Homo sapiens: one gene and its partners. The protein of the gene in region 6 purifies or fractionates together with the protein of the main gene of each other region. This does not show direct contact. Each region holds a gene or a part of one and is shown on either strand. Other genes may lie near its edges.

Region 1 (3,500 bases), on a different chromosome or scaffold from region 6:
TTTATTTTTAATTTTAATTTTTTAAATTTTTATGTATTTATGTATTTATTTATTTGAGACAAGGACTCACTCTGTCTCAGGCTAAAGTGCAGTGGTGCAATCAAAGCTCACTGCAGCATCGAACTCCTGAGCTCAAGCAATGCTCCTGTCTCAGCCTCTGAATTAGATGGGACACAGCCTGACACACTGCCAGGCTAATTTTTTTTCTTTTCTTTTCTTTTTTTTTTTTTTTTTTGATACGAAGTTTTGTTCTATCGTTCAGGCTGGAGTGCAGTGGCACAATCTCGGCTCAGGGCAACCTCCACCTCCCAGGTTCAAGCAGTCTGCTGCCTCAGCCTCCCAAGTAGCTGGGATTACAGGCATGTGCCACCATACCTGGCTATTTTTTTGTTTTGTTTTGTATTTTCAGTAGAGAGAGGGTTTTTCCATGTTGGCTAGGCTAATCTTGAACTCCTGACCTCAGGTGATTCACCTGCCTCTGCCTCCGAAAGTGCTGGAATTACAGGTGTGAGCCACTGTGCCTGACCGCCAGACTAATTTTTAACCTTTTTTTTTTTTTTTTTAAGAGACAGAGTCTTGCTCTGTCACCCAGGCTGGATTGCAATGGCATGATCTCAGGTCACCACACCCTCCACCTCCGGGGTTCAAGGGATTCTCCTGCCTCAGCCTCCCGAGTAGCTGGGATTACAGGTGCCCCACCACCACGCCTGGCTGATTTTTGTATTTTTAGTAGAGACGGGGTTTCACCATGTTGGCCAGGCTGCTCTCGAACTCCTGACCTCAGGTGATCCGCCCACCTCAGCCTCCCAAAGTGCTGAGATTACAGGCGTGAGCCACCTCACCCGGTCTTAAATTGTTTTTTCAGAGACAGTCTCGCTATGTTGCCCAGGCTGGTCTCAAACTCCTGGGCTCAAGCAATACTCCCATCTCAGCCTCCCAAAGCGCTGGGATTACAGACAGGAGCCACTGTGCTTGGCCTTAGCTTCTTCTTAAATGGCAGCAGTTTGAGTAGTGAGACTAGGCAGAAGCACCCCTCCTTGTGTTGGGAGCCATGCAAGTGGGAAGGGCATGGCTTTGAGGCAGACAGCTTTGGGTTCAAATCCCAGCTCTTCCACTTTCCCGCTGCGTGACCTCGCAGCACATCAATAACCTCTTGAAGCCTCAGTTTCATGAACTGTAAAGTCGAGGGTCTCAAAAACAGGCACCACCTGGGTTTGTTGTAAAATATTAAAAAAAAAAAAAAAAAAAAAGGCCGGGTGCCTGTAATCCCAGCACTTTGGGAGGCCGAGGTGGGTGGATCACATGAGGTCGAGAGTTCGAGACCAGCCTGACCAACATGGAGAAACCCTGTCTCTAATAAAAATAACAAAATTAGCCAGGCGTGGTGGCACATGCCTGTAATCCCAGCTACTCGGGAGGCTGAGATAGGAGAATCACTTGAACCCAGGAGGTGGAGGCTGCAGTAAGCCGAGATCCTGCCATTGCACTCCAGCATGGGCAATAAGAGCAAAACTCCGTCTCAAAAAAAAAAAAAAAAAAAAAAAGGAACAAAAGAGCTTAGCCCAGATTCTGGCATAACAGCGCAGCTCTGATGCACTATGTGCTTTACCTACATTCTCCCCAGTCCTCCCATTTTACAGAGGAAGAAACTGAGGTCCCGGGGGGACATGGCTTATCTAGGTTCACACTCCTATAATCTGGATGGGTGAGTGGAAGAAGGAGAGTGAACTCCTGGACAGGGATGCTCCTGCCCTCCTCTCTGTCCCAAACCTGCCAAAGCCTTCAGGTTTAGAAATTCAGGGAGTGTCTGGGGTATAAAAGGAATTTTTGCTGCCCATGGTCTAACTTTTATTCATTCAGCACATCCTGAATTCTGGGTATATCAGTTGGCATGCAGTTCTCCAGGCGATCTATGCCTTTGCCAGTGCTGTTGCTTCTGCCTGGAATGTCCCAGCCCTCCCTCCTACTCATCCTTTAAGACTCAAGTATCACCTGTGGGTCACTCCCTCTCTCCCCCCAACACACACAGGCACACACCAGGTTGAGCAAAGCACCACCCACCTGGAACTTATCCTGATGACAGGCTATAGTGATAATAATCATACCACCCCTTACAGAGCATAGACACGGGGCCTAGCACTGTCCATACACTGCTTCAGTAAACTCACATAAGAACCTTTTGAGAATGGGAGTATCCTATCATGAGCCCTTTTTACAGATAGGGAAGTCGAGTCTCAAAACCATAACCATGCCCAAGGCCACAGCCAGGAGCAGGCAGGGCCAGGGTTTGCCCTGGACTATCTCTGGCTGATTCCCTCCCTCCCTTCTTTTTTTTTTTTTTTTTGAGACAGAGTCTCGCTCTCTCGCCCAGGCTGGAGTGCAGTGGCACTATCTCGGCTCACTGTAAGCTCCGCCTCGCCAGTTCACGCCATTCTCCTGCCTCAGCCTCCCAGGTAGCTGGGACTACAGGCACCCGCCACCACGCCCGGCTAATTTTTTGTTTTCGTATTTTTAGTAGACACGGGGTTTCACCGTGTTAGCCAGGATGGTCTCGATCTCCTGATCTCGTGATCCATCCGCCTCGGCCTCTCAAAGTGCTGGGATTACAGGCGTGAGCCACCACGCCCGGCTGGCTGGCTCCCTCCCTTCTATCTGCCTCCTCCGGGAAGGCTCCTTCAATTTATCCCTTCCACACCCAACTGAAACCCACCTTCCTCTGTTGCTTCTCTACGGCTTAACCTGAACCCAAATATTCACTAGTTGCAAGTTGGAAGGGAGTTCAAATTCCTGCTTTGCCACTGCTGCCTGGCAAACGCCTCACAATGCCACAGAGGCCTGCATCAGTGAAATGGGAATAATGTGCCCCATGTCTCCCCACAGGAAGTCCTTGAGGACTGGCATGTTTTATACCTACCCCTGAACAGGCACAGGGTTCTAAAGCAGGTTTGCTAAACTGAATTCAGTACTGATACCACTCCCTCTGAGGGGTTTCCTTACCCCAGGTAGACTGTTACACCCACCTTGAGGAAGGGATCTTCAAAGTGAGTGGCTCTCTAAATGTAACACTGATCAATGTCAAAGTTGTCAGTGAACACCCCTCCAACACCATTGGTCTCTACGTCCAGTCCACCGCGCACCGCGGTCTCTCACCAGGATTTTTCTTTTTTCTTTTCTTTTTTTTTTTTTTTTTTGAGACGGAGTCTCACTCTGTCGCCCAGGCTGGAGTGCAGTGGCATGATCTTGCTTCACTGCAAGCTCCGCCTCCCCGGTTCATGCCATTCTCCTGCCTCAGCCTCCCAAGTAGCCAGGAGAACAGGCACCTGCCCCATGCCTGGCTAATTTTTTTGTATTTTTAGTAGAGATGGGGTTTCACCATGTTAGCCAGGATGGTCTCGATCTCCTGACCTCGTGATCGTCCTGCCTTGGCCTCCCAAAGTGCTGGGATTACAGGCGTGAGCCACCGCGCCTGGCCTCTCACCTGGATTTTTCTAGCAGCCTGC
Region 2 (3,500 bases), 6.3 Mb from region 6:
TCCCAGCACTTTGGGAGGCCGAGGCAGGGGGATCACCTAAGGTCAGGAGTTCAAGACCAGCCTGGCCAACATGATGAAACCCTGTCTCTACTAAAATACAAAAATTAGCCAGGCGTGTGATGGCGGGCACCTGTAATCCCAGCTACTTGGGAGGCTGAGGCAGGAGAATCGCTTGAATGTGGGAGGCGGAGGTTGCAGTGAGCCGAGATTGCACCACTGCACTCCAGCCTGGGTGACAGAGCAAGACTCGGTCTCAAAAAAAAAAAAACAAAAACAACAGATGGGGAAGCTGAGGCATAGAGAGGTGAGAGATTCTTTGCTTAGGGTTGGCCACGTCAAGTCAGAGCCAGGATTCTAACTCAGTTCTGGCTGAGTTTCAAACCCATCGTTTAAACCCTCCAGTGTGTAGATCTGTTCCTAACTTGTCTCCCTCCCAGGCCTCCCTATCTCCAGTTTTTTTCTCATCCTTCCAGAATCTGCCTCCATGGCCCAGCTTTGTCTGCTCAGGTGCCCTCTCTGAGAGCAGTCAGGGGCTCAGTGCTGCGTTTGGAGCCTCCGGTCTCCAGGCGCCTTCCCAGAATCGACTTCCTTCCCTCCTCCTGACCCCCTCTGCTGTAACTAGGCCTGAGTACACACTGTTCCTTGAACACTCTTCTGTTGTCCTGCCTCCACGCATTGCTCAAGCCGTTCCCACTGCCCAGCATACCCGTGCTTCCTTCTCCCTTAATTTTGAAATCCTCTCTGACCGTAAAGGCTCAGCTTCCTTTCTCCCTTTCCTCCTTCCTTCCTTCTCACCATCCTGTCCTTTTTTTAAAATTGTGTTCTCTTTCTTTTTCTTTTTTTGGTAGGGATGGGGTCTTGCTATCTTGCCCAGGCTGGTCTTGAACTCCTGGGCTCAAGTGATCCTCCTGCCTCAGCCTCCCAAAGTGCTGGGATTACAGGTGTGCTATCCTATTCTTCTAATGAGACAAAAATCACTCCCTAAGCCCCTACCATGTATTTGGTCCTATGTTAGCTTTGCTGGGGAAACAGCAGTGACCAAGACACTCATGGAGCTCCCAGGCCCATGAAAGAGACAGACCAATCAGCCGACAGTCACAGTTCAGAGTGGTCAGGAGGATGTGTGAGCCCAGAAGGAGGTCACTGGCCAGACACAGGGTATCAGAGAGGGCTTCCTGGAGGAAGGGGCATATAAGCTGAGACCATTGTGAAAAAAATCCGAGAAAGCCCAGATAAACCATTGGATCTAACTTTTTTTTTTTTTTTGGAGGGCGTGCAGTGCGGAGTTTCACTCTGTTGCCTAGGCTGAAGTGCAGTGGCGAGATCTCAGTTCACTGCAACCTCAGCCTCCCGGGTTCAAGTGATTCTCCTGCCTCGGCCTCCCAAGTAGCTGGGACTACAAGCGCACGCCACCACGCCCGGCTAATTTTTTTTTTTAGTAGAGAGTGGGTTTCACTATGTTGGCCAGGCTGGTTCTGAGCTCCTGACCTCAGGTGATCCACCCACCTCAGCCTCCCAAAGTGCTGGGATTACAAGCATGAGCCACTGTGCCCGGCCCGGATCTAACATAAAACAGAGAGAGAAGATATTATGTTTATGATTAAGGGGCCAGGTGTGGTGGCTTATGCCTATAATCCCAGCACTTTGGGAGGCTGAGGTGGGAGGATTGCCTGAGCCCAGAAATTTGAGACCACCCTGGGCAACACAGTGAGACCTCATCTCTACTAAAAGGAAAAAAGAACTAGCTAGATGTGGTGGTATATGCCTGTTTTCCAGCTATTCGGGAGGCTAAAGCAGGAGGATTGCTTGAGCCTGGGAGGCAGAGGTTGCAGTGAGCCAAGATCACACCTCTGCACTCCAGCCTGGGCAACAGAGTGAGATCCTGTCTCAAAAAAAAAAAAAATTACTATTAAAAAAATCCCAACTAACATTCTTCAGTCCAAGCATCAAAGAATGTTTCTGGAGCGTCTGTCGTGTGCCAGGCCATGTGCTGGGGACATAATCATAACCATGACAACCCCAGTCTCTGCCATCATGAGCTTGTAGTCCAGCAAGTGTGTAGGGGATAAGCCCCAAGGCACTGGGATCCAACCAGAGCTAGAACCCCAGCGCTGTGTGGGGTGATGTTAGGTAAGTGGCTTCACCTCTCAGACCCTCTGTTTCCTCCTTTGTAACACCGAGACGATAATCTCCCTGGGGTTGTGTTTTTAGAAATTAAGTAGGTTGTGGCACACTGAGTCTTTGTCATTGTGTCTGGAATGTTCCAGGTACTTAGTAAACAGGAACCTTTATTAATCATCTCTTCCCCAGGGCCGGCAGCTGGATTGGGGAGGGACTAGCCCTTCCCGAACCCTGACTCCCTCTTAACCTTCCCACTGTCAAAGAGATGTCTGTGAGGTAGCTGGGCTCTGAGGGGGCGGGAGAGATGAACACGTCCCTGATCCTGGGGTAGGAGAGGGATGAGCCATACAGTTTCCTTCTCTGGAGGTGACCCACTCTTCCAGTACTTGCTAAGGGACTTGACATGCTTGTGGGGTGCAGAATGTATTCCTGTGTGTGTATGTGTTCATGAATCAGACACTAACCCTGTCTCAAAAAGCTCATAGTTTAGTCGGCATGATACAACGAAAACCCTGTTTTCTATTTGCTTCTCTGGTTTTCTTTCTTTCTTTCTTATTTTTTTGAGTCAGGGTCTCACTGGGTCACCCAGTCTGGAGTGCAGTGGCACAATCACTGCTCACTGCAGCCTCACCCTCCAGGGCTCAAGTGATCCTCCCACCTTAGCCTCCTGAGTAGCTGGGACTACAGGTGCACACCACCACGCCTAGCTGATTCTTAATTTTTTATTTATTTATTTATTTATTTTTTGAGATGGAGTCTCGCTTTCTCGCCCAGGCTGGAGTGCAGTGGCACAATCTCGGCTCACTGCAACCTCTGCCTCTCAGGTTCACACCATTCTCCTGCCTCAGCCTCCCGAGTAGCTGGGACTGCAGGTGCCCGCCACCATGCCCAGCTAATTTTTTGTATTTTTAGTAGAGACGGGGTTTCACTGTGTTAGCCAGGATGGTCTCAATCTCCTGACCTCATGATCCGCCTGCCTCAGCCTCCCAAAGTGCTGGGATTACAGGCATGAGCCACTGCGCCCGGCCTAATTTTTAAACATTTTGTAGAGATGGGGTCTTGCTATATTGCCCAGGCTGGCCTCAATCTCCTGGGCTCAGTGGTCCTCCCACCTTGGTTTCCCAGTGTTGAGATTACAGGCGTAAGCCATCGTACCCGCTGCTTTTGTGGTTTCCTTTGTTCTCTCTCTCTTTGTCTACTTCTGTTCATCTTTTTCTTTTCATCATTACTTTGTATCTCTCTCTTTTAGTCTTCCTATATTTGTTTTGTTTTTTTTTTGTTTTTGAGACAGTCTTGCTCTGTCGCCCAGGCTGGAGTGCAGTGGCGTGTTCTTGGCTCACCGCAACCTCTGCCTCTCGGGTTCAAACGACTCTCATGCC
Region 3 (3,500 bases), on a different chromosome or scaffold from region 6:
TCTTCCTGAGGAGGAAACTGAGGCTCAGAGAGATTAAGCCACTTGCCCAGGGTCACACAGCTGGTAGGTGGTAGAGCTGGGTTCTATGCCCAGAACTTTTGCCTTTAATTCCTGTTGTATGACCCGAATGAGTGGGATGAATAGAACTGTCAAAATAGGATGTGTAAAGCCAGTGGAGGATGTAAACTTCAGAGGATGCCACAAATTCAGAAAGAACGCTTCTCATTTTTTAAATCACTGTGTTCAGTGGGTTTCAGCCATGCCCTTTACCAAGAATAGCCCACAGCTTAGACCATCATTAAAAGGGGTGGGGTGGGAAAGGCAGCAGGAGAGTAACTGGTCTTCTCAACCCCCTCACAGCAATGACTTCCCAGGAACTGGTGTTTCAGGGTCTCACATCCTAGTAGACCAGGCCCTGGAGTGTTGGAGAAAGACAGCCAAATTGCCTTTTTGCCTCTTCATTCCTTCTTTAATCCCCCAAATCCTTAAGGAGTCATGACTGTCATATACTGTCCTAAGTCCTCTGGGACCACAGAAATGACTCAATCCCATTCAAGAGCCTTTGCTGCAGGAGAAGGAGTGAAACCCATAAATGAATAATCCTAACTTTCAGAAAAAGAGTTAATGTGATTCTGAGAGACAGGCTTTTACTGTGGAAATGGGGAGGAAGGAGAAACCCTTATATCTCCAGACTACAGAAGAGCCCCCAAGCCTCGGCTTCCTTAGTTAACACCCCCAACTTCTGACTCAGTTTGTCAGGACCTGTTTCTAAGCCTGGAGGTTTGGACACCCCCACTGCCCTGCCAGGAGTTTGCTGAGGACCTTGGTTTTAAGCCTGCAAAAGGTGTGATTAGAGGCATTGTGGCAGGAGCAGCCTGTCTTTAAAAGAGCGAGGAAAGCTAGGCGGTGTCTCCCTGTGTTGAACTGTCTGGACGGCTCCAGCTCTGGACTGGTAAAGTGAATAAACGAGCAGATACTAAGGGATCCTTTGTACCTTGCACTTTATGTAACATAGTCATTTAGTTCTCGATACAACCCTATTTTGCAGCTAAGGAAACAGACATTTGAAACAGCTGTAATTTGCCCAGGAATGCATGGCTAAAAGGTAGCTCTTAATTGTAGTCTGATGCTAGGTGTGGAAAATCACTTGGGAGGCATGAATGGAGCCATGTTGTTGGGGAGAAGAAAGGCCTGTTCTGAGCTTAAGGGCAGAATCCTTAGGAAATATTTCCCTGTTCTTTGCTGTGGGCTTGCACTATGGACGGATACCAAAGAACTGCAGAGAGAACCTTTTACTGAGGAGAGGCCAGTGCAGTGGAAGTCATTTGGTTAGAACCTGCCCAACAGACAGCTGATCAGGCCTGGCTGGTAGAAAGAACAGAATGTTAACAAATATGGTATGCAGTGTTAGGGAGGCAGAAGAAGGGAGAATCCATGGGCCTGCTTCGATTGCTTTCGAGTCATGAGTTGGTGGTGAATGGGACAGGCCTTAAAAAAGTCAGAGATTATGATTCAAAACCAGACAATAATTTAAAAAATAGATTTCGAGAATGCTACCCTCCAGAAGGGCCCTCAGAGAGAATCTGAGGTTTTATTTACTTGTTTAACGGACAGCAAACTGAAGCCTGGTGGGGAAAGCAACAAGCCAAAGATGACAGTGTGTTACCCACAGAACCAGACAGCTTGCTGATCTGAATAAGCCTGTAAGACAGGAGTTTAGTGGAGGAATAGAAGGTGAATGGAGCAGGTTCATAAGAGAGCAAGGCAGTGGATTGATCTGTATTTTTGAGAAACCTCCCAGCATGGAGTTGGGAGTGTTAGCTAGGCCAAGTCAAGATTTCTAGGACACGGGGCCCAAGTGTCTTTGGAGATGCAAAAGAGTCCATGGTGAGGGGGGCACCAACACTGCAGAAGGGGGAGGGAAGGATAACTGTTGGATAGGGATCATTTCCCAGTTCTGAGTGGAGTCCAGAGTCCAGAGAGCGTGCTGTAAGGTGGTGTCCTATAAGCTTATCATGTGCTCTTCCCTGTTTCACCTGTAGGTGATTGCAGTGGTCATGGACGTGTTCACAGACATCGACATCTTCAGAGACCTGCAAGAAATATGCAGGAAACAGGGAGTTGCTGTGTATATCCTTCTGGACCAGGCTCTCCTCTCTCAATTTCTGGATATGTGCATGGATCTGAAAGTTCATCCTGAACAGGAAAAGGTTTGTGGTACACTATATCCAGTTTCACCATAGTCAACAAATATGACCAAGCATCCATTATCTACAAGCTGGCTGGTGGCGGTATCCCTGTTTACAAGGAAGGGACTGAGGCTGTGAGCAAAGTCATTTGCCTGGTCTTACAGAAAACAAACAGTACCTGTGACCTGGCAATTCTCCTAGGTGTCTACCCAAGAGAAATGAAAATATGGGCCCCCACAAAAATTTATGTGTGAGTTTTATAGAAGCATTATTCATAAAGCCAAAGAGTGGAAACAATCCAATGCCAATCAACTGATAAGTGGATAAATGATATGTTGTCTATTCATACAATAGCATACTATTCACCTATAAAAAGGAATGAAGTGCTGATACATGCTACAGCATGGATGAACCTGCAAACGTGCTAAGTGAAGGAAACCGGTCACAAAAGACCACATATGATATGATTCCATTAAGTCAGAATAGGGAAATCTATAGAGACATTGATTAGTGGTTGCCTAGGGCTGGGGAGTTGGGGGAAGGACGGGATTATTGCTAAAGGGTACTTTATTTTAGCACTTTCTTTTTAAACTGATGAGAATGTCCTAAAATTGACTAACGGTGATGATGGTTGCATATATCTGTGGATATACTAAAAACTACAGAATTTGTGTTAATTGTATGATCTGTGAATTAGATCTCAGTTAAGCTCTTTAAAAGAAATGTTAGGATTCAAGACCTTGGCCTCTCCCCTGTACTGTCCTGCCTCTTAATAGAGCCTGGACCAGCTCCCTTGTTGAAGGCCTGAAGGCCACCCTGGAAGTTGCTGCTTTTGACAGTAGCTCCAGGAGGCTGCCCTTTTAATCACAGCAACCAGTATTTTTTGAGCCCCCACTCTGTCTTTGGCACTGCTCCATGCTTTTTTTTTTTTTTTCCTGAGATAGAGTCTCACTCTGTTGCCCAGGCTGGAGTACAGTGGCCCAATCTAGGCTCACTGCAACATCCCTCTCCCAGGTTCAAGAGATTATCCTGCCTCAGCCTCCCAGTTAGCTGGGATTACAGGTGCGTACCACCACACCTGGCTAATTTTTGTATTTTTAGTACAGATGGGGTTTTGCCATGTTGTCCAGGCTGGTCTTGAACTCCTACCTCAGATGATCTGCCTGCCTCGGCCTCCCAAAGTGCTGGGATTACAGGCATGAGGCCCCATGCCCAGCCTGCTCTGTGCTTTTAACAAATGTTATGTAACTGAATCCTCAAAGCAGCCCCTATCAGGTAAGTGGCACCTGTGTTTTAGACCAGGAAATAGTG
Region 4 (3,500 bases), on a different chromosome or scaffold from region 6:
TACCTGTAATCCCAGCACTTTGGGAGTCCGAGGTGGGCGGATCACCTGAGGTCAGGAGTTGAAGACCAGCCTGACCAACATGGTGAAGCCCCATCTCTACTAAAAACACACACACACACACACACACAAAATTATCCCGGGAGGCGGAGGTTGCAGTGAGCCTAGATTGCACTATTGCACTCCAACCTAGGCAACAAGAGAAAACTCTGTCTCAAAAAAAAAAAAGAAAAAAAAAGGAAAGTTTATTACTGAATGAATCCATAGATGGATAATGCTCTCTCAGGCTGCCTTCTGTCAGTATCCTGCTATAACCACAATGTGCTCAAGAAAAAAATATTAGCAGGAGCCAAACAGACTTAGGAAAGTCACATAATCGTGTTGCTTTTTTGGTAGTTTTTTCCAGTAGTAAATTAGGGATGGAATTATTATAAATGTGTACATTTGTTAAACAGACATTATTGAGATATTTATAGATTAAAAAAAATTTTTTTTTGAGACGGAGTTTCGCTCTTGTTGCACAGGCTGGAGTGCGATGGCATGATCTCGGCTCACCGCAACCTCTGGCTCCCATGTTCAAGCAATTCTCCTGCCTCAGCCTCCTGAGTAGCTGGGATTACAGGCATGTGCCACCACGCCTGGCTAATTTTGTATTTTTAGTAGAGATGGGGTTTCTCCATGTTGGTCAGGCTGGTCTCAAACTCCTGACCTCAGGTGATTCTGCCCGCCTCAGCCTCCCAAAGTGCTGGGATTACAGGCGTGAGCCACCACGCCCGGCCTGGCTAATTTTTTTTTTTTTTTTTTTGAGACAGAGCATCACTCTGTCGCTCAGACTGGAGCGCAGTGGCGCGATCTTGGCTCACTGCAACCTCCACCTCCTAGGTTCAAGCGATTCTCCTGCCTCAGCCTCCCAAGTAGCTGGGACTTACAGGCGCGAGCCACCACGCCCAGCTATTTTTTTTTTTTTTTAAGATGGAGTCTTGCTCTGTCGCCCAGGCTGGAGTGCAAGTGGCATGATCTCAGCTCACTGAAAGCTCCGCCTCCCGGGTTCATGCCATTCTCCTACCTCAGACTCCCGAGTAGCTGGGACTATCGGCGTCCGCCACCATGCCCGGCTAATTTTTTGTATTTTTTAGTAGAGACGGGTTTTCACCATGTTAGCCAGGATGGTCTCCATCTCCTGACCTCATGATCCGCCCCCCTCAGCCTCCCAAAGTGCTGGGATTACAGGCATGAGCCACCGCGCCTGGCCTGAGATATTTATATATTCTAACATAATACATTATTCTAAAATCGTAAGAGTTTATGTAGAAAAACTTTTGCTAACTTTTTGTGTGCTTTTAAATTTTTTTGTAGAGATGGGATCTCACCATCTTGCCCAAGCTGGTCTTGAACTCCTGGGCTCAAGCAACCCTCCTGTTTCACCCTCCCAAAGTGCTGGGTTTACAGGTGTGAGCCACCACACCTGGCCCTTTTGATAACTTAAAAAAATTTTTTTGGAGACAAGTTCTTGCCCTGTCACTCAGGCTGGAGTACAGTGATGTGATCATGGCTTACTGAAGCCTCAATTCCTAGGCTCAAGTGATCCTACCACCTCAGCAGCCTCCTAAGTAGCTGGGACTACAGGCATGCACTACCACACCTGGCAAATTTTTTTATTTTTAGTAGAGACAAGGTCACACTATGTTTATAGATTTTTGTATTTATTATTTTTTTTTAGAGAACAGGGTCTCGCTATAGTGGTCAGACAGGTCTCCCTAAGTGCTGGGATTACAGGCGTGAGCCACCACACCAGGCCACTTTTTAAAAATTAAAAATAGGCCAGGTGTGGTGGCTCACGCCTGTAATCCCACCACTTTGGGAGGCCAAAGTGGGCAGATCATCTGAGGTCAGGAGTTCCAGGCCAGCCTGGCCAACAGCGCAAAACCCTGTCTCCAGTAAAAAATATAAAAATTAGCTGGGCATGGTGGCGCGCACCTGTAATCCCAGCTACTCAGGAGACTGAGGCAGGGAGAATCGCTTGAACCCAGGAGGCAGAGGTTGTTGCAGTGAGCCGAGATCACACCACTGCACTGAAGCCTGGGTGACAGAGCAAGACTCCATCTCAAAAAAAAATAATTAATTAAAATTAAAATTAAAAATAGAGTTGCAGGCCAGGTGTGGTGGCTCACACCTATAAACCAGCACTTAGGGAGGCAGAGGCAGGAAGATAGCATGAGCCTAGGAATTTGAGATCCGCCTGGGCAATATAGCAAGACCCTCTTCTCTAAAAAAAATTTAATAAGTAAGTACAAAAATAAATAATAAGTAAAAAAATAAAAAGAGAATTGCAAACATTTTTCAAAGGTTTCTATTACAATAAATCTGTCTCAGAATCTTTTTTTTTTTTTTTTTTGAGACAGGGTCTCCCTCTGTCTCCCAGGCTTGGAGTGGAGTGGTGTGATCTTGGCTCACTGCAGATTCGACCTCCTGGGCTCAAGTGATCCTCCCACCTCAACCTCCCGAGTAGCTGGGACCATAGGCATGCACCACCGTGCCTAATTTTTAAAAATTTTTTGTAAAGACATGGTTTTGCCATGTTGCTCAGGCGGGTCTTGAACTCCTGGAGCTTAATGGATCTGGCTGCCTTGGCCTCCCAAAGTGCTGAGATTACAGGCGTGAGCCATCACACCCGGCACACAAAATCTTAAATAATGATACCAAAGGCAGATTTAAATGATTTTTGAGTTACCCTTTAGTTTGAACTCAACACGTTCTATTTCTTTTTATTATAGGGTATGTCTATATGCCACAGACATACATATAACTGCAGAACTGACAATATTTTGTGTTGTTTTTCTATATCTAATATGACCTATCAATTATGATTAGCCTATGAGATCCCTGAAAGCAAAAACTCTTTCTTTTTTGAGACGGAGTCTGGCTCTGTCGCTCAGGCTGGAGTGCAGTGGCACGATCTCGGCTCACTGCAACCACCACCTTCCAGGTTCAAGTGATTCTCCCGCCTCAGCCTCCCAAGTAGCTGGGATTACAGGCACTTGCCACCACGCCCAGCTAATTTTTATATTTTTAGTAGAGACGGGGTTTTGCCATGTTGTCCAGGCTGGTCTCAAAATCCTGATCTCAGGTGATCCGCCCGCCTTGGCCTCCCAAAGTGCTGGGATTACAGGCATGAGCCACCATGCCCAGCCAGCAAAAACTCTTTCTTCCTCTCTTTATATCTCACTCATCAGAGCCCAGCATGGTACATGATAGGTAGCAATTTAATTTCCTTGTGCTTACTTGGATAAGATATGATGGTCGACAAGGATGAGGGTGAGTTGGCCAGCCTGGTATAATGCATGGAGGTCAATCTCATCCCGAAAAATCAAGATACTCTCTGGAATATGAACCTTCTGAAGAAAGAAGACAATGTCACCTCGCAGAGGTAGTTCAGAACGTTTTATATTTAAAACTGGCACAAAGACTTCCTCAGCCTCAGTTGTCTAGATAGGAAAGTGAAA
Region 5 (3,500 bases), on a different chromosome or scaffold from region 6:
CAGGCTGGAGTGTAGTGGTACGATCTCGGTTCACTGCAACCTCTACCTCCCGGGTTCAAGTGATTCTTCTGCCCCAGTCTCCAGAGTAGCTGGGACTACAGGTGCGTGCCACCATGCCCAGCTAATTTTTGTTTTTTGTTTTAAGTAGAGACGGGGTTTCATCATGTTGGCCAGGATGGTCTCGATGTCTTGACCTCGTGATCCACCTGCCTCGGCCTCCCAAAATGCTGGGATTACAGTCATGAGCCATCGCACCTGGCCATTGTTACCATTTTTAAACTACTGCAGAGCTACAACCTTCCTATTTAGTGAAATATTTTATAAATGTCTGTGTATATATATACACTGAAATGGCTGAAAAGACTTGATTCTGCCTGTAATCCCAGCTACTTGGGAGGCTGAGGCACGAGAATCATTTGAACCTGGGAGGCAGAGGTTGCAGTGAGCCGAGATTGCACCATTGTAGTCCAGCCTGGGTGACAGAGCAAGACTCCATCTCAAAAAAAAAAAAAAAAAAAAAAATTTGATTTCCAAGGTAACTTGGAAACATCAGTTATCCTAATAACTGATAATTATTAATTACTGATACAATTACTAATAATAGGTGTATTGCTATTGAACACACGGTATCCCCCAGTGTGTTAAATAGCAATACCTCTGAGAGTACATGCTGTTTCATATTCCATGTTGTAAAATAATTTGAAATATATACACTTTTTTCTCTTTTTTAAAGACAGGATCTTACTCTATCATCCAGACTGGAGTGTGGGAGTGCGAACATAGCTCACCGCAGCCTCGAACTCCTCGGCTCAAGTGATCCTCTCACTCCAGCCTCTCGGGTAGCTGGGACCACAACAGGCATGCACCATCATGTCCAGCTAACGTTTTTACTTTTTGTAGAGATGGGGTCTCACTGTGTTGCCCAGGCTGGTTTCAAACTCCTGGCCTCAAATGATCCTCTCGCCTTGACCTTGGGATTACACACATGAGCCACCATGCCTGGCCTGAAATATATTCTTAAAATTAAATCTGAATCAAGTGTTGATGGAATCTAACAAGCACTTCTCTGGGATAGTATTTATAACACCTTCTACAAGACAGAACTAATAAAATGTAGCTTGCTTACATCTGAAGAGGAAGTGACTTTTCAAACAATGAATTGAAAAAGATGATAGCTAAAAACAATAAAGAGCCTTCTTCCTAGGGTGGAATATTGATATTTTATGTCTTTCAGTAAAGAAGGCAGTAGGTCTTTTCATGGTTCCACCTTTTAAGATTCAGGCATTTTTAGTATATTCACAAAACTGTACAACTATCACCACTATCTAATTCTAGAACTTTTTTTTTTTTTGAGATGGAGTCTTGCTCCGTCACCCAGGCTGGAGTGCAGTGGCGCGATCTCGGCTCACTGCAAGCTCCGCCTCCTGGATACACGCCATTCTCCTGCCTCAGCCTCCCGAGGAGCTGGGATACAGGTGCCCATCACCATGCCTGGCTAATTTTTTGTATTTTTTTAGTAGAGACGGGGTTTCACAGTGTTAGCCAGGATGGTCTCGATCTCCTGACCTTGTGATCCGCCCGCCTAGGCCTCCCAAAGTGCTGGGATTACAGGCGTGAGCCATGGCGCCTGGCCATTCCAGAACATTTTTATCACTCCCAAAAAGAAACCCTGTATCCATAAGCAGCCAATCCCCATTTCAGCTTTTCTCAGCCCCTGGTAACTACCAATATACTTTCTATCTCTATGAAATGGTCTATCCTGGACACTTCATATAAATGCAATCATACAATATATGGCATTTGGGGTCTGACTTCTTTCACCTGGCACAAGGTTGTCAGGTGTACTCATGTCATATCATCTATCAAAACTTCATTCCTTTTATTTTATTATTTTTTACATGTAAAGAGAGACAGGGTCTCTCTATGGTTCCCAGGCTGGTCTCAAACTCCTGATCTCAAGCAAACCTCCCAGTTCAGCCTCCCAAGTAGCTGGACTACAGGTATGCGCCACTGAGCCTGGCTGAGAACTTCATTCTTTATTATTGCCAAATAATGTTTCATCATACGGGAGCAGTCTTTTCTTTGGCCATTCATCAGTTGATGAGATATTGGAGTTGTTTCAACTTGTTGGCTGCTATGAATAAAAAATGTGTATATAAGTTTCAGGGTCTAAATACATTTTTTCTTTTCTTCCTTTTTTTGAGACAGGGTCTCACTCTGTCACCCAGGCTGGAGTGCAGTGGGACGATCATGGCTCACTGCAGCCCTGACCTCCTGGGCTCAAGCCATTCTCCCACCTCAGCCTCCTGAGTAGCTGGGACTATAGGCACAGGCATGCACCACCATGCCCAGCTAATTTTTCTTTTTTTTTCTTTTGGCAGAGATGGGGTTCCACCATGTTGCCCAGGCTAGTCTTGAACTCCTGGGCTCAAAGGATACGCCTGCCTCGGCCTCCTAAAGCGCTGGCATTACAGACATGAACCACCGCATCTGGCCTAAATATATTTGTTATTCTCTTCTATATATACCTAGGAGTGAAATTTCTGGATCATATAGTAAACCTATGTCTAATATTTTAAGAAACTGCTGAACAGTTTTCCAAAGCAAATGCACTATTTACATTCCTACAAGCAATGTCTAAGATTCTATTATTGTCTGTTTATTGTTACAGACATCCTAGAAGTGGTATCTCACTGTGATTCTCATTTGCATTTCCCTAATGACTAATTATGTTGAGCACCTTGTCATGTGTTTTTTGGCCATTTGTGCATCTTTTTTAGAGACATGCCCATTTGATGGCTGAATTATTTGTCTTTTTATTACTGAGTTCTAAGAGTTCTTTATATATTCTGGACATAAGTTCTTTATTAGATGTACACTTTGCAAATGTTTTCTACCATTCTGTGAGTGGTCATTTTTCACTTAATTGACAGTGTCTTCTGAAGCACAAACGTTTTTACTTTTGCTGAAATCCAAATTATCCGTTTTTCCTTTGGTCTCTTGTGCTTTTTGTATCATATGTAGCAAATCATTGTCTAAACCAACGTCACAAAGATTACTTTTACGTTGTCTTCTAAGAGTTTTGCAGTATTTGCTATTACATTTAGCTCTCTCATCCACTTTCAATTCATTTTCGTACATGATGTGAAGTAGAAATCCAACTTCATTATTTTGTATGTGGATATCCAGTTGTCCCAGAGCTATCTGTTGAAAAGACTATTCTTTACCCATCAAAAAGCCTTGGTGCCCATGTCAAAAATCAAACATATACATATATTAATATATATGCAAAGGTTTATTTCTGGACTCTCAAGTCCATTGAGCTAGATGCCTATCTTTTTTTTTTTTTTTTCTTTTTGACAGGATCTCACTCTGTCGCCCTGGCTGGAGTACGGTGGTGCAATCACAGTTCACTGCAGTGTTGACCTCCTGGACTCAAGCGATCCTCCCACCTCAGACTTCCGAGTAGCTGGGGCTATACGCATGCACCACCATGCCTG
Region 6 (3,500 bases):
AGGCCCTGAGGCAGGTGGGGATCAGCTTGCTGGGTGCAGAGCCTCATGCACTGTGGTAGGGGTTTGGCTGTTACCCACAGTGAGAGGGGAGCCACAGAGGTGGTGAGGGCGGAAGTAGGAGCCCAGTGAGGATGAGGACGTGGTGGTCCAGCCAGGGCAGCTAGACTGGGCTGGGGCCATGGGTGGTGGAACACAGGTGACATGGTCAGGTCCAACCCCTGGGACTTGCTTAAAATGCATGTGGGTGTGAGAGACACAGAGGGCGGCCTCCAAGAAACCGCCCGAAAAGGCAGTGGTGCCCTGATGTTATCTGTAGTCATACTGAAAAGAAAAGTGCGGCCGGGGCGGTGGCTCACACCTGTAATCCCAGCACTTTGTGAGGCCGAGGCAGGTGGATCACCTGAGGTCAGGAGTTCAAGACAAGCCTGACCAATATGGTGAAACCCCGTCTCAACTAAAAATACAAAAATTAGCCGGGCATGGTGGTGGTGCCTGTACTCCCAGCTACTTGGGAGGATGAGGCAGGAAAATCACGTGAACCAGGAGGCAGAGGTTGCGGTGAGCTGAGATCCTGCCACTGCACTCTAGCCTGGGTGTCAGTGCTAGATGCCGTCTCAAAAAAAAAAAAAAGAGAGAGAGAGAATGGTGGCATGACTCCCAGTATTAGGCACCTACTGTATGCACTAGCCCATTCAACTCTATCACTGTAGACCCATTTTACAGATGAGGCTGAGGAAAGTAAAGGCAAAGGTGACCCGGCACTGCCCCACCCCATGGTGCTTGCCCCCATGCAGCCCTCAGGCCTGCGGCGCTTTGACGATGGGGCATGTGAGGGACCCCTCTCCCCGACTTCCCTGGGTGATGAAGCCCCAGCCTCTTCTCTCCAGGACCCAGGGTCAGCACATTCCTTCAGGGCAGTTGAGAAGGGCAGGTGACGGGGGAGATCTGGGAACTTGGAAGAGGCCTTGGCTTCTGCCTTCTGCCCCTGGATCCCCCTCTCTCTGCCCCAGGTCCCCCCTCTCTCTGCCCCAGGTCCCCCCACACTCTGCACCCGGTTTCCCCCTCTCTCTGCCCCCTGGGTCCCCCTCTCTCTGCGCCTGGTCTCCCTTCTCTCTGCCCCTGGTCTCCCGTCTCTCTGCCCCTGGTCTCCCGTCTCTCTGCCCCTGGTCTCCCATCTCTCTGCCCCTGTTCTCCCTTCTCTCTGCCCCTGGTCTCCTGTCTGTCTGCCCCTGGTCTCCCTTCTCTCTGCCCCTGGTCTCCCGTCTCTCTGCCCCTGGTCTCCCGTCTCTCTGCCCCTGGTCTCCCGTCTGTCTGCCCCTGGTCTCCCTTCTCTCTGCCCCTGGTCTCCTGTCTGTCTGCCCCTGGTCCCCTTCTCTCTGCCCCTGGTCTCCCGTCTCTCTGCTCCTCGTGCTCCCTCTCTGCGCAAGAGATGAGGACACTGAGCAGGCTGTGATAAGAACCACAGCAAGTGTTTGTTAAATGGATGAGTGATGTTTGGGTTCTGGACATGGGAGGGCGGATGTGGAAGTGGTGAAAAGTCTCCTGCTGAATGTGGGGGACAGAGGAGTGGGGACATTTTGAGGGGAGAGGGAGAGGAGGAAACAGCGGGAGGCATCGGGGAGTTGGTGGGATCGGGAGGTGGAGGCTGGGGGTAAAAAGACACATCAGTCAGTGATCAGGAGACTCTGGGGGTCCCTTTCACAGGGGACCGGACCCGTGTATGGGGAAGAGCAGGTCCCCAAGCCCCCCCACCACCACACCCCCTAATCCCGACGTGCCCATTAATGTTGTTAATTGCAGCGGTTCAGTCTGACCCAGGCTGATCCTGGGAGAGGGAAAATGAAGGAATTAGCAAAAATGACAGGGGAAAATTGCGACAATTAGCAGGCAGCATTGTTCCTGCCTGTCACCCGGCTGGTTCCGAGCTGTATCTTGAGGGAGGGGGTCCCCGTCAACCCCCCAGCCCCCCAGTAATTGTTCCTGGAGCTCCAGGCGGAGGTGGAGGCAGGGAGGAACAGCCAGGAGGGTGTGGGGTACTCCTGGGAGGAGGAAGCTCAGCCCAGACACTAGGGGGCTGGGGAGGCGGGGGCTGCGCGCCCATGGGGGAGGGGCGGGGTTTCGCCGCCTGGTGTTTTGATGGTCGGGTAATAACAATAGTAATCACACTATTAATACCAGTCCCGGCTCTGTGCTGCAGCATCTGCTTCTGCCAGGCCCCAGCCAGGCCCTTCTGTCTGTTAAGTGGACTGAATGCGTAACCAGCCTGGGGAGTCACCGCTCCTGGCAAACCCGCTTGACAGAGGAGGAAACTGAGGCACAGAGCGGCAGAGAGGCTGGTCCCAGGGCACACAGCCAGGGAGGGGAAGCGCTGGGGCCTGACAGGAGACCTGGCCCCTTAGCCCCATAGGAAAAAGGCACTTGGGGACCCTCAAGGTCACCAAGTCTCTCCCCTGGCTCCCCACTCTCAGCACTGGGTTGGAGCTCCCTCGGGGGTTGTCCTCTGCAGGGTCAGGGTCACCCAGGGGTCCTGGGTGGGGACAGGCTCCGGGACCCCCAGGTCTCTGCCTACCCCCAGCACAAGGTCCAGGGTCCTAGCTCCTGACTGTAGGGAGGATGGGGCAGGGGGCACAGGTCTCACTTTGTCTTGGTCTCAGTTGCCATCTCTGTCTCTCTCTGCATCTCTTTTCCTCTGTCTCTCCATGTCTATTTTTTTTTTTAGTTTTTGTTTGTTTGTTTGTTTTTGTTTTTATTTTTGTTTTTTTGAGATGGAGTCTTGCTCTTGCTGCCCAGGCTGGAGTGCAATGGCACAATCTCGGCTCACTGCAACCTCTGCCTCCCGGGTTCAAGTGATTCTCCTGCCTCAGCCTCCAGAGTAGCTGGGACTACAGGTGCACACCACCACGCCCGGCTAGTTTTTCTGTAGTTTTAGTAGAGACAGGGTTTCACTATGTTGGCCAGGAAGGTCTCGAACTCCTGACCTCAGGTGATCTGCCCACCTCAGCCTCTCAAAGTGCTGAGATTATAGGCGTGAGCCACTGCACCCGGCCTTAGTATTTTTATTTATTATTATTATTATTATTGAGATGCAGTTTCACTCTTGTTGCCCAGGCTGGAGTGCAGTGGTGGGATCTCAGCTCACTGCAACCTCCACGTCCCGGGTTCAAGCAATTCTCCCTCCTCAGCCTCCCGAATAGCTGGGACCACAGGCACATGCTACCACACCCAGCTAATTTTTTGTATTTTTGGTAGAGACAAAGTTTCACCATGTTGGCCAGGCTGGTCTTGAACTCCTGGCCTCAGGTGATCCACCCACCTCCGCCTCCCAAAGCACTGAGATTACAGGTGTGAGCCACAGTGCCCGGCCTCCCCATTTTATTTACTCATTCATGAGTTGGACATTTGTGTGCTTTCCACCTTTTGAATGATGTGAAGTATGCTGCTATGAACACGCATGTACATGCTACAACGCCTGTTTTCAATTCTTTTGATTACATAGATTA
Region 7 (3,500 bases), 8.2 Mb from region 6:
TGCCCATGACCTTGCTGAAGAAGCTGGCCAGCAGTGGGTTGAGGCTGCCGGTGCTCTGCAGGAAGCCGTAGAGCCGGTTCAGAAGGGACTCATCAGCACCCAGGGCATCATTGATCTGGGGCACATCTGAGGTCAGAATCTCGCAGGCCACACTGGGGTACCTGGGAGGCAAGCACAGGCGGGTGGGGGCTCGGGTCGGAGGCCGGGGGCAGGGGGCGGCAAGGCTCCACCCTCTTCTCTGCACCGGGCACTGGGTTTCTGGGAACTGCAGAGACCCCTGTCCAGGAAGGGGAAAGGGCAGAGGACAGGGTGACGCAGAAACAAGGGCCCACACCAGGCCTCCTCCACCCTGCTAACACCCAACCATCCCATCCTAGGCTCCTTACCACCCCCAAGACAAGCTGGTCCTGAAGCTCCTGCGCTTCCCAATCCCCCAGCAGCTAACACTCATCCCTTTTGCCTCTCAGCGGCTTCACTTGCAACCCCGTATGCTGCCCCAGCTCCGGCTGACTCCTGGAACCTTGCTCAACTTCCAACCTCACCTCCTGCCTCCCTCCTCCAAACTTTCACACGGTGCCTGACGGCTCCAAGACAAGAGCTGCCCCACCAGCGTGCCACTCAAGGCCCTGAGGGGCCACAGTCTGCTCCAGGACTGTGGGGAGGTACCCCTTGGGAGGCTGAGGCAGGCATATCACTTGAGGTCAGAAGTTCAAGACCAGCCTGGGCAACATGGCGAAACCCTGTCTCTACCAAAAATACAAAAATTAGCTGGGCGTGCTGGCTTATAGTCCCAGCTACTTAGGAGGGTGAGGCAGGAGAATCACTTGAACTTGGGAGGAGGAGGTTGCAGTGAGCCGATCATGCCTCTGCACTCCAACCTGGTGATAAAGTGAGTCTCAAAAAAAAAAAAAAAAGTGTCTTTTCAGCATCGCTTGGATTAAAAAATAAGTAAAGTGTCTTCAATAGCAGACAAGTGTTTCACAAACATACAAAAAAAGTTTAATAAAAAGTAAATAAAATAAAAGGCGGCGAATAAAGAGAAAAACCAGCCGGGCATGTCGTCACATGCCTGTGGTCCCAGCTACTCGGGCAACTGAGGCGGGAGGATCACCTGGGCCCGTGAATTTGTGGCTGCCGTGACCCGTGACTGTGCCACTGCCCTCCAGAGCACAGGCTTGGTCTGCACCCGGTGAGCTGTGAGGCCTTGTGCAGGAGCCTGGCTGCTCCCAGCCTCGTCTTCCTCATCCCCAAACTGGAGTTTACTGACACTGACGCATTTCAGGGTAGCTGTGAGGCTTGCGTAGTGAAGGTATGTGTGATGCTGATAGGGACGGGCTGGCCAGGAGCTGGGGAACTCACTTGTAGCGCAGCCGCTCCTCACCGCTATCTGGCGGCTCCTGGGTGACCCAGGCCACCATTGCTTGCAGGTGGGGTGGCTGCAGCAGGAAGTCCAGCAGCTTGCGGTTGACGACCTTGCACTCCTGCAGCACGTCTTCCTCGTCCAGCAGCTCGGGCAGGCTCAGGTCCTCCCGCTCCAGCAGCGTGTCCAGGTGCGAGCTTGTGTGCAGGTCAAACTTCCAAAACATGGCGCCCTGCAGGCATAGACACAACCAGCGCCGCGTCAGACGCCCCAGGGAGTCCCCACTGGACGAGGCACTGACCACAGGGGCTGAGTGCCCACCTTGGGCACAGCCTCTCCCCAAGTCCCAGCCCTCTGCCTCATGCTGAGCCCGGCCCCGCCCCGGGACTGCCCGCAGGCTCACTGCCTCCATCACTCAGGCTTAAGGCTCCCAGTGAGCACCAGGCTCCTGCAGTTGCCCTCGAGCCTGCCCCTCTTCCCCCATCTCCAGCCTCCCGGCCGCCTCGCCTGAGGTCCAGGGGGTCATTTCACACCTGAGGCCTCAGGCCTGGTGAAGTCCCCAGGTGTGGACCATGTGCAGGGCCTGCGAGAAGAGGCTGGACCCTGTGCACTGAGGGGCCTCGGGCCCTGTCTCCCCATGAGGGTCTGGGTCCACTATCCCTACTTTTGGGAGAGACACTGCAGAGGCAGGGCCTTAACCTCTGGCTTCAAATTTGCTTCAACCTGTATTTGCTCAACAAACTCAGATGCCCGATGACTTCCAGCACACGGCTGCTGCTTGGCCCAGCAAATCCCCCAAGGCTACGTGGGAGGCATGGGGCGGCGGCAGGGGGAAGAGAGGAAGTCTGTGCATCTCCAGGCTGTGGCCGTTGCCTGGACACCACTCACACACAAACACACCCCAACCATCCTCTCACCCAGCACCTGGGCTGGAACAAGGAAGAGGAAAAGTTGGAAGGGAGGGGCTCCCAGAATAGTCACTGACCAGGACCTGAAGGAACCCAGGGTGGGATAGACAGATTCTGTGGGGGAAGAACAAAGCTGGCAACACCCGGCCCTGACCCTGTCCCCATCTGGAGCTGGCTCCCGCCCTCTGGAGGACAGTGCCTGGTTCCTCAGCCTGGTTCCAGCCCCTAAACGCTCGTGCATGGGAACTCACTGGCAATAAGGAAACACACACAGAGTATTAACAAGATGCCAGGCAACTCCATTCTGAGCCCCTGCCCTGTACTACATCACTGCTCCGCAGAGCCCTAGAAAGCCTCCACACAGACCTTCCACTACAGACCTGACCTGTGACCTGTGCTCTGGGCACTTGATGACAATGGTCCTGGCTCTGCATGTGTGCTGTGCACATGATGTCCAAGCTCACCAGCAGCCCCCAAGAAAGCTGTCATCACTCCGCCACACAGGACAAGGGGCAACCAAAGCCCGGTAAGTCAGGCGGCATCCTGGAATCTCGAAGGCCATCTGGTCCCAGCAGACAGCCTTCACGGAGCTCTCACCAGTTAAGACACTGACCAGAGCTCACGCTCATTACCTGCCTCCTGACAACCGCATCACCAGCTAAGGCAGAGGCCACTGCTACCCCCAAGTCACTACAGAGGATGCTGAGAACAGAGCAGAGCCGGCACAAGAGGCCAAGGGTGCCTCTCCCGCAGGCCCTCACCACCATCACTCCCAGGCACAGATGCTAGTCCCTCTCCTCCAATGCCCTTCTGCAGCTTCTTCCAGTTCAGTCATTCCCTCTGCACAGGCCTCCACCATCTCCTCGAGCCCTGCTGACCTGTCACCTCAGTGCCCACCAGCCCCCAGGCCTGACTCAGCCCCAGGCCCCAGGGAAGAGACAGGGAGACGTGGAGCACCAGGCCCAGGGAAGAGACTTCATCGGAGCTTAGGAGAGCAGCCTGGGCTGACAAAACGCAGGACAGAGTCCCACACATGGCCTCAGGCAGGTCGAACGCCTCTTGGGCCTCCTTTCCTCTCCTTCCTGGCTAGCTTGAAGCCAGGCCAGCCTGGGGCCAGGATCTCCTTGCTCATCCACCCTGACCACCCTAAGGCTGGGCTCAGCACAGAAGGTTGCAGTCCAGACCTTGCTCCCAGTCTGCCCGTCTGCCTCGGTAACTCTAGATTGGCAACA

The links.
Region 1: the proteins of NPAS1 (region 6) and KIAA1671 purify together in Homo sapiens (affinity purification with mass spectrometry; one large-scale study listed by BioGRID and IntAct). This does not show direct contact.
Region 2: the proteins of NPAS1 (region 6) and ITPKC purify together in Homo sapiens (affinity purification with mass spectrometry; one large-scale study listed by BioGRID and IntAct). This does not show direct contact.
Region 3: the proteins of NPAS1 (region 6) and FAM83D purify together in Homo sapiens (affinity purification with mass spectrometry; 2 studies listed by BioGRID and IntAct, with this or other methods). This does not show direct contact.
Region 4: the proteins of NPAS1 (region 6) and PRUNE1 purify together in Homo sapiens (affinity purification with mass spectrometry; 2 studies listed by BioGRID and IntAct, with this or other methods). This does not show direct contact.
Region 5: the proteins of NPAS1 (region 6) and PSD3 purify together in Homo sapiens (affinity purification with mass spectrometry; one large-scale study listed by BioGRID and IntAct). This does not show direct contact.
Region 7: the proteins of NPAS1 (region 6) and PPP6R1 purify together in Homo sapiens (affinity purification with mass spectrometry; 2 studies listed by BioGRID and IntAct, with this or other methods). This does not show direct contact.

What each region holds. Positions count from the first base shown.
Region 1 is NC_000022.11:24,955,716-24,959,215, reverse strand, and holds part of KIAA1671 (uncharacterized protein KIAA1671), read right to left. Parts: intron 1-3,500.
Region 2 is NC_000019.10:40,720,112-40,723,611, forward strand, and holds part of ITPKC (inositol-trisphosphate 3-kinase C), read left to right. Parts: intron 1-3,500. UniProt on the Homo sapiens protein: Catalyzes the phosphorylation of 1D-myo-inositol 1,4,5-trisphosphate (InsP3) into 1D-myo-inositol 1,3,4,5-tetrakisphosphate and participates to the regulation of calcium homeostasis.
Region 3 is NC_000020.11:38,939,917-38,943,416, forward strand, and holds part of FAM83D (protein FAM83D), read left to right. Parts: intron 1-2,042; coding exon 2,043-2,210; intron 2,211-3,500.
Region 4 is NC_000001.11:151,018,449-151,021,948, reverse strand, and holds part of PRUNE1 (exopolyphosphatase PRUNE1), read right to left. Parts: intron 3,483-3,500; coding exon 3,280-3,482; intron 1-3,279. UniProt on the Homo sapiens protein: Phosphodiesterase (PDE) that has higher activity toward cAMP than cGMP, as substrate. Plays a role in cell proliferation, migration and differentiation, and acts as a negative regulator of NME1. Plays a role in the regulation of neurogenesis.
Region 5 is NC_000008.11:18,874,204-18,877,703, forward strand, and holds part of PSD3 (PH and SEC7 domain-containing protein 3), read right to left. Parts: intron 1-3,500. UniProt on the Homo sapiens protein: Guanine nucleotide exchange factor for ARF6.
Region 6 is NC_000019.10:47,026,337-47,029,836, forward strand, and holds part of NPAS1 (neuronal PAS domain-containing protein 1), read left to right. Parts: intron 1-3,500. UniProt on the Homo sapiens protein: May control regulatory pathways relevant to schizophrenia and to psychotic illness. May play a role in late central nervous system development by modulating EPO expression in response to cellular oxygen level.
Region 7 is NC_000019.10:55,245,518-55,249,017, forward strand, and holds part of PPP6R1 (serine/threonine-protein phosphatase 6 regulatory subunit 1), read right to left. Parts: intron 1,593-3,500; coding exon of another isoform or gene 1,587-1,592; coding exon 1,360-1,586; intron 162-1,359; coding exon 1-161. UniProt on the Homo sapiens protein: Regulatory subunit of protein phosphatase 6 (PP6). May function as a scaffolding PP6 subunit. Involved in the PP6-mediated dephosphorylation of NFKBIE opposing its degradation in response to TNF-alpha.